Regions from separate parts of the Homo sapiens genome. Here region 1 is linked to region 2. The links come from fine-mapping of genetic effects on gene expression. Tissue or cell type: ileum. Region 2 holds a variant in brackets; the other region holds the start of a gene. All regions are shown on one strand. Distances are between the middles of the regions.

Evidence for each region. PIP is the estimated chance that this variant, and not a neighbour inherited with it, causes the effect.
Region 1: HEATR4 starts here. The variant in region 2 is fine-mapped to the expression of HEATR4 in ileum (GTEx, PIP 0.93).

Annotation. Positions count from the first base shown.
Region 1 is chr14:73,556,425-73,561,765 of GRCh38, forward strand. It overlaps HEATR4 (HEAT repeat containing 4), which reads right to left and starts at 2,523. Exons shown (of 18, transcript NM_001220484.1): 1 at 2,327-2,523. RefSeq lists an enhancer at 3,355-3,524.
Region 2 is chr14:73,461,907-73,467,611 of GRCh38, forward strand. It overlaps LOC101928143 (a long non-coding RNA gene), which reads right to left and starts at 1,736. Exons shown (of 3, transcript NR_135251.1): 1 at 1,569-1,736; 2 at 623-783. RefSeq lists enhancers at 1,685-1,774, 3,035-3,264. The variant G/A (reference allele first, on the strand shown) is at 2,996.

The DNA of each region.
Region 1 (5,341 bases), 94 kb after region 2:
CAAAAAAAAAAAACAAAAAAAACTTAAGGAATAGTTATTATCATCCGATATGATGGCTTATTAAGAAGGAAGGGAACACATGATAGGTCTGTTTTGAAAAGGAATGGGGACAGAACAAAATGTTACACAAGGTCTGATCAAAAGAGGCTTGTTCTGGCTTGTCTTTGTCTGTCTTGGAGTCACGGGACAGGTGTAAGGCCAAATTGTGCACTTCCCAGTCATGTTACCTTGGGCAAATAATTTGAAATCTGTAGTTTCCCAATCTGAAAATTGAGTCTGATACCTGTTCTAATTTAGTGTTGATTGATATGAACCTCAAAATTAGAAACGTATGAAAGTTCTTTGCAAACTAAAATATATGTGTGAGGAATTGTTATTATTAGTTTAGAGGATGGACTGTTGTCCTTAGAAGGCAAGTCTCTGGGTCCTACAGTTAGATGCACTGGGCGCTTCGGGAAGAATTTAGGGCTATGGGGTACTCAGCAATTAAAAGAGAGGGTGCTTAGAGAAGAAAGAAAGGACTTATTAATGGAGTTTGGAGGCTCCTTATTATCGAAACTTACACATTACGTGACCAGCATTATGAGGCAGCACCCCACTCCCAACAAATAGCCCTCTAGAACCAAAAGCAGAGTGGCAGGTCCGGGGTCCTTTTGTACATAGACAGCATAAAAAATTGACTAAGTCAATCCTGGCATAACTGCAGACCAGGCCCTGGAATGAGCAACCCACCAGCATTATCTGCATTTCTAGGAACTTGGGCTAGAAGGGGAGGAATGGGGTTGGAAGGGTTAGGCCACATGCCTCTAGTTAAAACCTGATGAACTTCCTAGATCCCCAGCTGGAAAACGTAGGAGTTGGACTAAATTCCTCTCCTGCCTCTAATATTTTATGAATACAGAACTCAACTCAAACTGGGTAGTATCTCAGAGATTCCAAATTTAGTTCCACTTTTCTGTTTGCTTATCAGTCGCTTACCCTCACCCTCTGGTCTGATACCTTTATCCTGTACAAGTGGTCAAAGTAGGTTGAGTAACATGTGCTAAAAGGAGTAATATCTTGCATTCTCCCTTGTTATTAAAATAGAGGAAACTGCCTTGAAAGAAAAGACTAAAAAGCAATAAGCCTTAGTATCAGTATCTTCTGAAAGCTTTAAAAAAATAATACTCTCATCTCTACCAACAGATTTGGATTCTGAAGTTCTGAGGTGGAGTCCAAGAGTGTGCAGTCAGCTTCTGGGGTGGTGTTTGTTAGATACAGTTTTTTGTTTATTTATTTATGTTTGAGACAGGGCCTCACTCTGTCACCCAAGCTGGAGTGCGGTGGCACAGTCATGGCTCACTGCAGCCTTGCCTCCCAGGCTCAAGCAATCCTCCTGCCTCAGCGTCCCCAGTAGCTGGGACCACAGGTGTGCACCACCATGCCTGGCTAATGTTTTAAAACTTTTTTTTGTAGAGACAGGGTCTTACTATGTTGTCCAGGCTGGTTTCAAACTCCTGGAATCAAGTGATCTTCCTGCCTTGGCCTCCAGAAATGCTGGGACTATGCCTGGAATAGATATGGGTAAAGAACCTTTTACATCAGACTCTTGTGTCCTACTCCCAGAATGCTGATTCAGTAGCCTGCAAGTGAGGCCTAGAAATCTGCATTTTCACAAGCTCTCAGGTTTAATACACAATACATTTAAAGAAAGCACAGCCCAAAGGGTGTCAGTGGGGTGTATGAAGGAAGCCTGGTTAGTGGGGAGAGTGGGATTAGGGAACAGCTGCTTAACCTGGCTTGTTTCAAGTCCCCCTTTCTCCCTTTTTGCCCTCAAAAAGTTCCCCTCATTTTTTCCCCTCTACTTTCTAATTTTTTACCATGCACTCACACAGCTATACAGCTATCTCCAGAGATTACTCTGGAAACTCTGCTATAAAGATGACCTGGTCTAATGCCTTGATTTGTTTTTTTTTTTTTGAGACAGGGTCTCACTCTCCTGGAGTACAGTGGCGTGATCATGACTCACTGCAGCCTTGACCTCCTGGGCTCAAGCAATCCTCCCACATAGCTGGGAGCATAGGCACATAGCACACCACTCTCGGTTAAATTTTTTTTTTTTTTTTTTTTTTTGTAGAGATAGAGTCTCACTATGTTGCTCAGGCTGGTCTTGAACTCCTGGACTCAAACAGTCCTCCCACCTTGGCCTCCCAAAATGCTGGGAATACAGGCATGAGCCACTGCACCAGGCCTAATGTCCTGATTTTATAAATCCCAAAACTGGGGCCCAGAGAGAAGAGAAATCATTAAGATCACCATACTGCTTGGTATCTAAAGTAGTACTGACCCTTTTGACACCTAATCCAAAGTTTTTTCAGCTACCTCAGGTTGCCCCTCATCTTCCAGCTGACACCATCCAGCACCTTTCAGATACTGGCAAAGGAGCAGTGTTTCAAAATTACTTTCCAAATGGCCTCCTAAAAGGCAGTCCTCAGAGAGAAGCAAGGTTCTGCATCTTAAGCCTTCCTTGGTTTCTTAGGTTCCAAAGCTGTTTCTATCAGTCTCCAAGCAACCAACTCTTTAGAATTCCATGAGTCTACTCAGAGAACTTGTGGGTTCAGTCGGGGGTATATCTTCAACCATTTATTAAATTTCCTTCTTTGTAAACTGAGCTTTGAGAAATTGCATCTTATTTATTGATTATTTATTGAATGGTAGTTTCATGGAGTTTTTGGTCTTTTTTCTTTTTTGAGACAGTCTCACTCAGTTGCCTAGGCTGGAGTGCAGTGGTGCGATCTCGGCTCACTGCAACCTGTGCCTCCCAGGTTCAAGCAATTCTCCTGTCTCAGCCTCCCATTACAGGCCACACCACCATGCCCCACTAATTGTACTTTTAGTAGAGATGGGGTTTCACCATGTTGGACAGGCTGTTCTCAAACTCCTGACCTCAAGTGATGTGTCCGCCTTGGCCTCCCAAAGTGCTGGGATTTGCAACTGTGAGCCACCACACCTAGCCTCTTGGTCATTCTTTGAAAAATAAACCTCAGCCAGGCGCGATGGCTCACGCCTGCAATTTCAGCGCTTTGGGAGGCTGAGGTGGCGGATCACCTGAGGTCAGGAGTTAGAGACCAGCCTGACCAACATGGTGAAACCCCATCTCTACTAAAAATAGAAAATTTAAAAAGAAAATCACCTGGGCCTGGTGGCGCATGCCTGTAATCCCAGCTACTCGGGAGGCTGAGGCAGGAGAATCGCTTGGACCCAGGAAGCAGAGGTTGCAGTGAGCCAAGATCAGGCCATTGCACTCCAGCCTGGGCAGCAAGAGTGAAGTGCAGTCTCAAAAGATAAAAATAAAAAAACCCTCTAGATATATGCAGCTCCATATTCTCCCACCACAAGGGTTTATAAATCCTGAGAAAGAGGCAAAGCAGGGAACACATGACCACATAGTTCTGGCAGGCGTCAGATTACCAGGCTGATAAAACAGATGGTAAAGTAGAAGCTGTCCGTCGACTTTTCCATTCCCCTTTCAGCTCCTCCACTGCTACTTAATCTCCTTTGCCCACACAGTTCAATCCCATTTTCCCTGATCTCTAAATCCTGGCTAGATTATTAGCCATTAACACTAGCTTTTACAAGGAGACTCTTCAATCTTGTATTTCTAATAGTATAATTTCACACGTACAGAAATTCTTTAAGTCATAGAAGTCTTACAGATACAGAAATTCTGATCTTCAAGAGTCCCTTTGTGAAACAAACTAATTTATCCTGACAGCAGGAAAGATTTCTGGGCCTAAGGCTCTGTCTCGTTGACCCAGGTCATGCTATTCAGGTGGTCCATCTCTTGGTTCCAAGCAAGACTGCTGCTGCTGACCAACCTGAATATGGACTTTAGCACTTGAGCTCAAGCTGCACTCAGATGGTTAGACCCCCATAAAAAGCAGAGGGTACGTTTTCTGTTATGAAAAGTAAAGACTGAGCCAGGCGCTGTGGCTCACGCCCATAATCCCAGCACTTTGGGAGGCAAGTTGGGCGGATCACGAGGTCAGGAGATTTAAACCATCCTGGGTAACACGGTGAAACCCCATCTCTACTAAAAATACAAAAAAATTAGCCAGGCGTGGTGGCAGGCGCCTGTAGTCCCAGCTACTTGGAGGCTGAGGCAGGAGAATGGCATGAACCCGGGAGGCGGAGCTTGCAGTGAGCCGAGATTGGGCCACTGCACTCCAGCCTGGGCGACAGAGCAAGACTCCATCTCAAAAAAAAAAAAAAAGAAAATTAAATACTAAAAAAATTAAACATTATAACCCTGCTAAGGCAGGAGGATCATTTGAGCCCAGGAGTTTGAGGCTGCAGTGAGCTATGATGGCACTACTGCACCCCAGCCTCAGTGACAGAGGGAGACCCTGTTTCTAATAAATCAAAACCCTGTTGAAGGTTCCTCAAAAAATTAAATATAGAATTACTATGTGATCCAGCAATTCTACTTCTGGGTACATATCCAAAAGAATTGAAAGCAGGGACTTTAACAGATATTTGTATACCCATGTTCATAGCAGCATACTCACAATAGCCAAACGGTGGAAAGAACCCAAATGTCCATCAGTGAATGAATGGATAAACAAAATGTGGAAGATACATACAACAGAATGTTATTCAGCCTTAAAAAGGAATGAAATGGGCTGGGCGTGGTGGCTCAGGCCTGTAATCCCAGCACTTTGGGAGGCCGAGGAGGGTGGATCACCTGAGGTCAAAAGTTCAAGACCAGCCTGGTCAACATGGTGAAACTCCATCTCTACTAAAAATACAAAAATTAGCCAGGCGTAGTGGCAGGCGCCTGTAATCCCAGCTACTCAGGAGACCGAGGCAGGAGAATCTCTTGAACCCAGGAGGCAGAGGTTGCAGTGAGCCAAGATCTCGCCATTGTGGTCCAGCCCGGGCGACAGAGCGAGAGTTTATCTCAAAAAAAAAGAAAGAAAAAAAAAGAAAAAGGAATGAAATGGGCCAGGTGCAGTGGCTCACGCCTATAATCCCAGCACTTTGGGAGCCTGAGGCGGACAGATTACTCAAGGTCAGGAGTTCGAGACCAGCTTGGCCAACACAGTAAACCCCGTCTCTACTAAAAATACAAAAATTAGCTGGGCATGGTGGCACACACCTGTAGTCCCAGCTACTGGGGAGGCTGAGGCAGGAAATCACTTGAACCCAGGAGGTTGCAGTGAGCCAAGCAAGATTGCACCACTCCACCCCAGCCGGGCAACAAGAGTGAAACTCTGTCTCAAAAAAAATGAATGAAATGGCTGTGTGAGGTGGCTCATGCCTATGATCCCAGCACTTTGGGAGGCCGAGGTAGGAAGATTGC
Region 2 (5,705 bases):
TCCATTTCTATTTTAGCCCACAGGGGCAATCTCACTAGGGAAAGGATCCATTTTTTGCTTTTGGATTTTCTTCCTCTGGATTCTACACACGATTCCAATTCCAACTAGATTAGAGAAATAAACAACCGGTGGAGAAGAAAATCGCTCAGATAGCAGACAAGGGCCAGAACTGCCTGCCACTAGCAGTTGGAGGCAAGCCAAAATATTTGATAAGAGGTAGCTTCCTGAGTTAGGGATCCCTGAGGGTGGAGGCTGACAAAGATGAAGGGATTAGAGAGAAGGGGAGGGAAAAGGAGGGAAGAGGAGGAGATGAGGGGGCAGGAGAGAAAAGGGTAAGAAAAGCTAGAAAAACAGTCAAAAAACCCAATCAGAGTGCTGAGCCAGCTTACAGTCCTGCCTTGCCTACCCCCTATCCCCACCCATGTGGACTTTACACTAGGTTGCATAATTACACCAGCAAAGTGCAGCCTCTGCCACTGGTTAAAAGGGAAAGCGTGCCAGGCTCCAGCCTATGGGACCGTTGTTCTGCTGCCACCTGGAAATCCTCCCAGAGCTCAAAGCCTGCTGCTCTGGGCAAAGCTGACAAGGAAGGACAGATTCAGCAGCCAACCAAGGAGCATACCTTCATTTGATTTCCTTAAGGCAAAAGCACTGGCTAAACAAAGGGAGACTATCTGGGAGAAGGTGTTTTCACCCTTTCAAGCTGGGGTGCTTTCACCACCGGGAAGTGCCACGCTGCTTTCCACGCTGGAACAAGGTACTGTGGTTTCAAAGTTCAAGGCTCTGTTTCAGGGATGGGAAGGAAAAAAAAATCAGTGAAAGAAGGTGTTCTGGTCTCTCAGGCAGAACCATTTGTTATTTGATTCCAGAGCTCATGTAATTTTTAAATACCACACTATGCATTTTCATTACTAAATGCATTCATTTTCATCCTCAAGAAAAGTGTATGCCCCCTTCCGCCTGCTTTACATAATATGGCTTGAGCGCTTGTAAAAATGGATGGGCTGTAGCTCTGAGTTCTGCCATTGTGCTATTGACTGGAGCTCCTGGTTACTATCACCAGATCTATGGGTGGATCAGCCATTCTTCTGCAGCAGGGAGTGGACCGACTCAAAGCACTTAGCACCATTTAAACTTTTGTCCATCTCTGTTTTTATGCACACAAAGAGTTTCCTGGAAACATGGCTATCCTCCAAGGATTTCAGAGAGTAGAATTCTTCCAGAACTGCAGTGTCCCAATCACTTGGAACCTCATGAGAAAGCAGACTTAAACTCAGACCCTAGAACCTCGAACTTAGTATGTTCCAAAAGCTTTGGCTCTGCCATTTACCAACTGTGTAATTTGGGGAACATTGATTCATCACCCTAAAGCTTCATTTTCTTCATCTATAAAATGAGATACATATTAGCTATCTTGTCTTGCATAACAAATTACCCCAAAACTCAGTAGCTTAAAAGAACGTTTATCGTCTCAGTTTCTGTGGGTCAACTCTCTGGCATTGGGTCTCTTATAAGACCACAGTCATCTCAAGCTCAGTTGGGACAGATCTGCTTCCTGCCTCACTCACCTCGTTATTGTTGGCAGGACTCACTTCCTAAGGCCTTGGTTCCCCAGGAGCTGTTGGCCAGAAGCCTCCCTCGGTGCCCTGCCTCATGGGCCTCTTCGTTGAGCATCTCACAACGTGGCAGCTTACTTCATCAGTGCAAGCAAGCAAGAGCAAGAGAGAGGACTCACCAGAGACAGTAATAGCAAAACAGAAGGCACAGTCTTTCGTAATCCAATCACAGATGTGACATCCCATCACTGTTGCCACATCCTGTGAGTTAGAAGTAAGTCATTAGGTCCAGCCCACACTCAAGGAGATTACACAAGGATGTAAAGACCAGCAAGAGGATCATTGGGAGCTATTTTAGAAGCAGCCTACTCTAAGATAATAATAACATCTAGGGTTTGTTTAAAATTTAAATTAGAGACTGCATGGTGGCAGCTACTTGGGAGGCTGAGGTGGGAGGCTCACTTGAGGCCAGGGGTTTGAGGCCAGCTTGGGCAACATGGTGAGACTCCTCCATCTCTTAAAAAAAAAAAACAAATATATGTGTATATTTTTAAATATTCAAAAATCAAATTAGAGAATATGTTCAATTCGGGCCAGCATATGTTATGTAATATATAACTGTTATATATAATAACTATTATTACCATTAATATTATTATTGACTATATAATGGCTGGTTTTCTCCCCTAGCTCCTAGAAGGAACCCTTTTATGAGGAGTAAATGAAATAATATACATAATTCAGGACCTGACATGTAGTAAATGCTCAATAATCATTAGTTATTGTTAACATTATTAATAGCCGGGCACGGTAGCTCACGCCTGTAATCCCAGCACTTTGGGAGGCCAAGGCGGGCGGATCACAAGGTCAGGAGATCGAGACCATCCTAGCTAACACGGTGAAACCCCATCTCTACAAATACAAAAAAATTAATTGGGCATGGTGGCGGACACCTGTTGTCCCAGCTACTCAGAAGGCTGAAGCAGGAGAATGGCATGAACTCAGGAGGCGGAGCTTGCAGTGAGCAGAGATCACGCCACTGCACTCCAGTCTGGGCAACAGAGCGAGACTCCATCTCAAAAAAAAAACCAACATTATTAATAAACATGTGATATTTGATATTCTCTCCAAGCTACTGGAAGGAAATACTATGAACTCTCATTACTTTTCCAGGGTGGCCTTATTTCCATATGTTTTGTTCAGTTTTTCCATTAGCACCCTATACTCACCAGAGCACAATTCTAGATTTGGGGTTCATAAAATATGACCACCAAATCCATAACACAGTCTAATTTCCTGCCTGCCCTATACCAAGAAGGGTATGCACAAAACCAGCAAAATGGGCTAATTATGGCAGCACCTCCTATATGCACAAAAGTCTGAGCCTGGCCCCAACCAGAATCCAGACAGAAGGGATTGTGCCTGGGAGAATGAACAGA[G/A]ACTTCGCTATGTGACCTTTGTCCCTTTTAAAATATGGTCATCATTGTGCAGTCTACTCAGTCAATCCTCAACTAAGAATGAGAGAAAGAGGGACCTACACAGGCCCTACAGATGGGATAAGGGTGTCCAAGAAGACATTTTCACACCTGGGTTGGAAGTAATAAGAACCCATAAAAATAAAGAGCAATTTTGCAATTAGAAAGTTGGAAGAAGAGAGTCCAGTTTGCAACATGAAAGAAAGATCATAAGAGGCTGGAGTCACCCTTTAGGGCTGGGTTGAAGCTGTCTTCCTTATAAAGGTGGAGGATATTGAGGGTTGGCCTGTGGCCAGGAAAAATGAGGAACTATAATCAAGAAAACCCCATTATTTTTGCTTTGAGTCATTTCTCAGGGCTCACCCATAATTATTACATAAGAAAGACAGAAAAAACAAAAACCTCCTAAAGTGTAAATGATCCTTAAACTAAAAACACCGTAGAAATACAAAGATCCAGGCCGGGTGCGGTGGCTCATGCCTGTAATCCCAGCTACTTGGGAGGCTGAGGCAGGAGAATCACTTAAACCCGAGAGGCGGAGGTTGCGGTGAGCCGAGATAGCACCATTGCACTCCAGCCTGGGCAACAAGAAAGAAGAAACTCTGTCTCAAAAAAAAAAAAAAAAAAGAAAAAAGAAAAGAAAAGAAAAGAAAAAGAAAAGAAAGAAATACAAAGATCCAAGTTTTTGCAACTTATCTGTCTCTCTCTCTCTCTGTCTCTGTTTCTTCTTCTCCCACCCATATTTGCACATGTTCTTTCATTTCTTTTCCGCACAGAAGAAAACTACCCTTACAAGGAAATGCCTTAGGATCCTCCAGGCTGGAATTGTTTTCAGATCAGGAATCATCTTCTCTAGCAGTCTCCACTGCAGCTCTACAGGATTAGAGCTCAGTATTCACAGATAATGACAGTTTACACCTCTCCCTCTAAATCAAGTCACCTGTGCAGCTGTGATTTAAAGAGTTCGGATGATTTTCTGAGCTGCACTAGCCCTGGCCCTTTCCTCTCCCGAAATGTTCCCAAACATTACCAGATTTGTACACAGAAAGGCTCAAAGCAGAAGTTGCTGGGAAAGTTCTGTAAACATGAAGGGGAGATGTACACCAATATCAAGTTCCTCTTCCTGTGGCTCTGGTTTTCTCTCCTTCCTATTCTCTATTCTGTGTTTCCTCTGTGTCTGGGACAGAGGAGACTTGTATGTTTCCATACCTGTTAATAGCCAGAGAAAACTTTGTTCGGTCCCTTGGCAGGTTAGCGGATTTTAGAAGGGAAAGACAGGGTAAAGAGATGAGGACTCGCCCCCAGGAAGTCTGACTATACAATAGGAATGGTGTATTTATTTATTCAGCCCTTTCCTACACTGCAGTCATTTCATTTCACCCTCAGGATGTGTATTTAGTGGTAAGCTTTCTTTCTTTTCCTGTTAGTTTCCTGCAAAAGGACATCAGTGTCTTCCTCATTGGAGCAGCTGATAAGAAGGATGTTGTTGCTCAAATAGAGACAGAAAAACATATTTCCTATCACAGACCCAGGCCATCCCAAGGGCATGGAGAATTAGACCAGGTTGTGGAAATAATAGAAGAACCTGATTTTCATGCCTATTTCCCTGGTGCCATCTTCCTCCCTGAAATACTCTGCAATAATTACACCTTCCACTTAAGTAGGATTTCACACTTTTCCAAAGTAGCATCACGTTGTACGGAAGTAGAGTTGGCTGCACTGTAGCTGGCATAGCCTATTAGTTACTTTGGAGGGTTTATATGAAGAGGCAACTTTGGGTTTAACTTTAAGTTTTGGGGAACTCATACAAATAGCATAGGTTTACCCTAAGTTGGATTCCATTTGCTAGCTCCTGCCTCTCCTACAGATCTCATCTTCAAAGTTACTATTATAGGGGAGGCTTCCTGTTATCCCTCTCCCAGCCACATTGAGTTGGGTGCCCCTCTTATACACACTGCATTTCCACTTTGGATACACATATCCCGTGGGTAAACTTGCTCAGTGCCTAGCCATCCAGCAACATGTCGGCACTGTAATACCAGGGACAACAACCTTCCTGCTCATGGCTGCCTAGCATAGGGCCTGGCCCACAGTAGTTCACTAAATATTTAGTGAATGAATGAGTGAGTCAGGAATTGTCTCTAGGAGTAGCCTTGCCACCTGACACAATCACTTATTTTGGGGTAGTGCTCTGGGAGTTATAAAAAAGGCCTGTGCTAATTATCACATAATGATCACCGGTGGTTATAGTATTTAGTAGGCAAAAGCACAGTGGTGGAGTATGACTAAATAAAGGTCTCCTCCAGGTGGGGGGCTATCCCCGCACTCTGAATTTGGAACCCCACTGCCCATCTCTCTTGGACTCCTGTGGACAGGGTCATTCCTTTGGGAAATTCTTTTCGGAGTTGCCAACACTGGGGAACAGGGAGAATTAAGCTCCATTTCCCCAAACTCAATGAAGTCTTTCTGATATGAAAATTAAATTAAAGAACAAGGCCAGTGGTGGCCCTCTGTTGCTTTCCTTTCAGCCTCTGAGACAGATTTCCCCATCAAGGGTCTGCGCTGAGTCATCCCGCCTCCAGCGGAAACAAGTCAGCAGCACCCTGAGGATGGGTGATGGAGGTAAAGACTCATCCTGCTAATCTCCTCCTCCCGCGGAGGCCAAGGTTCATGG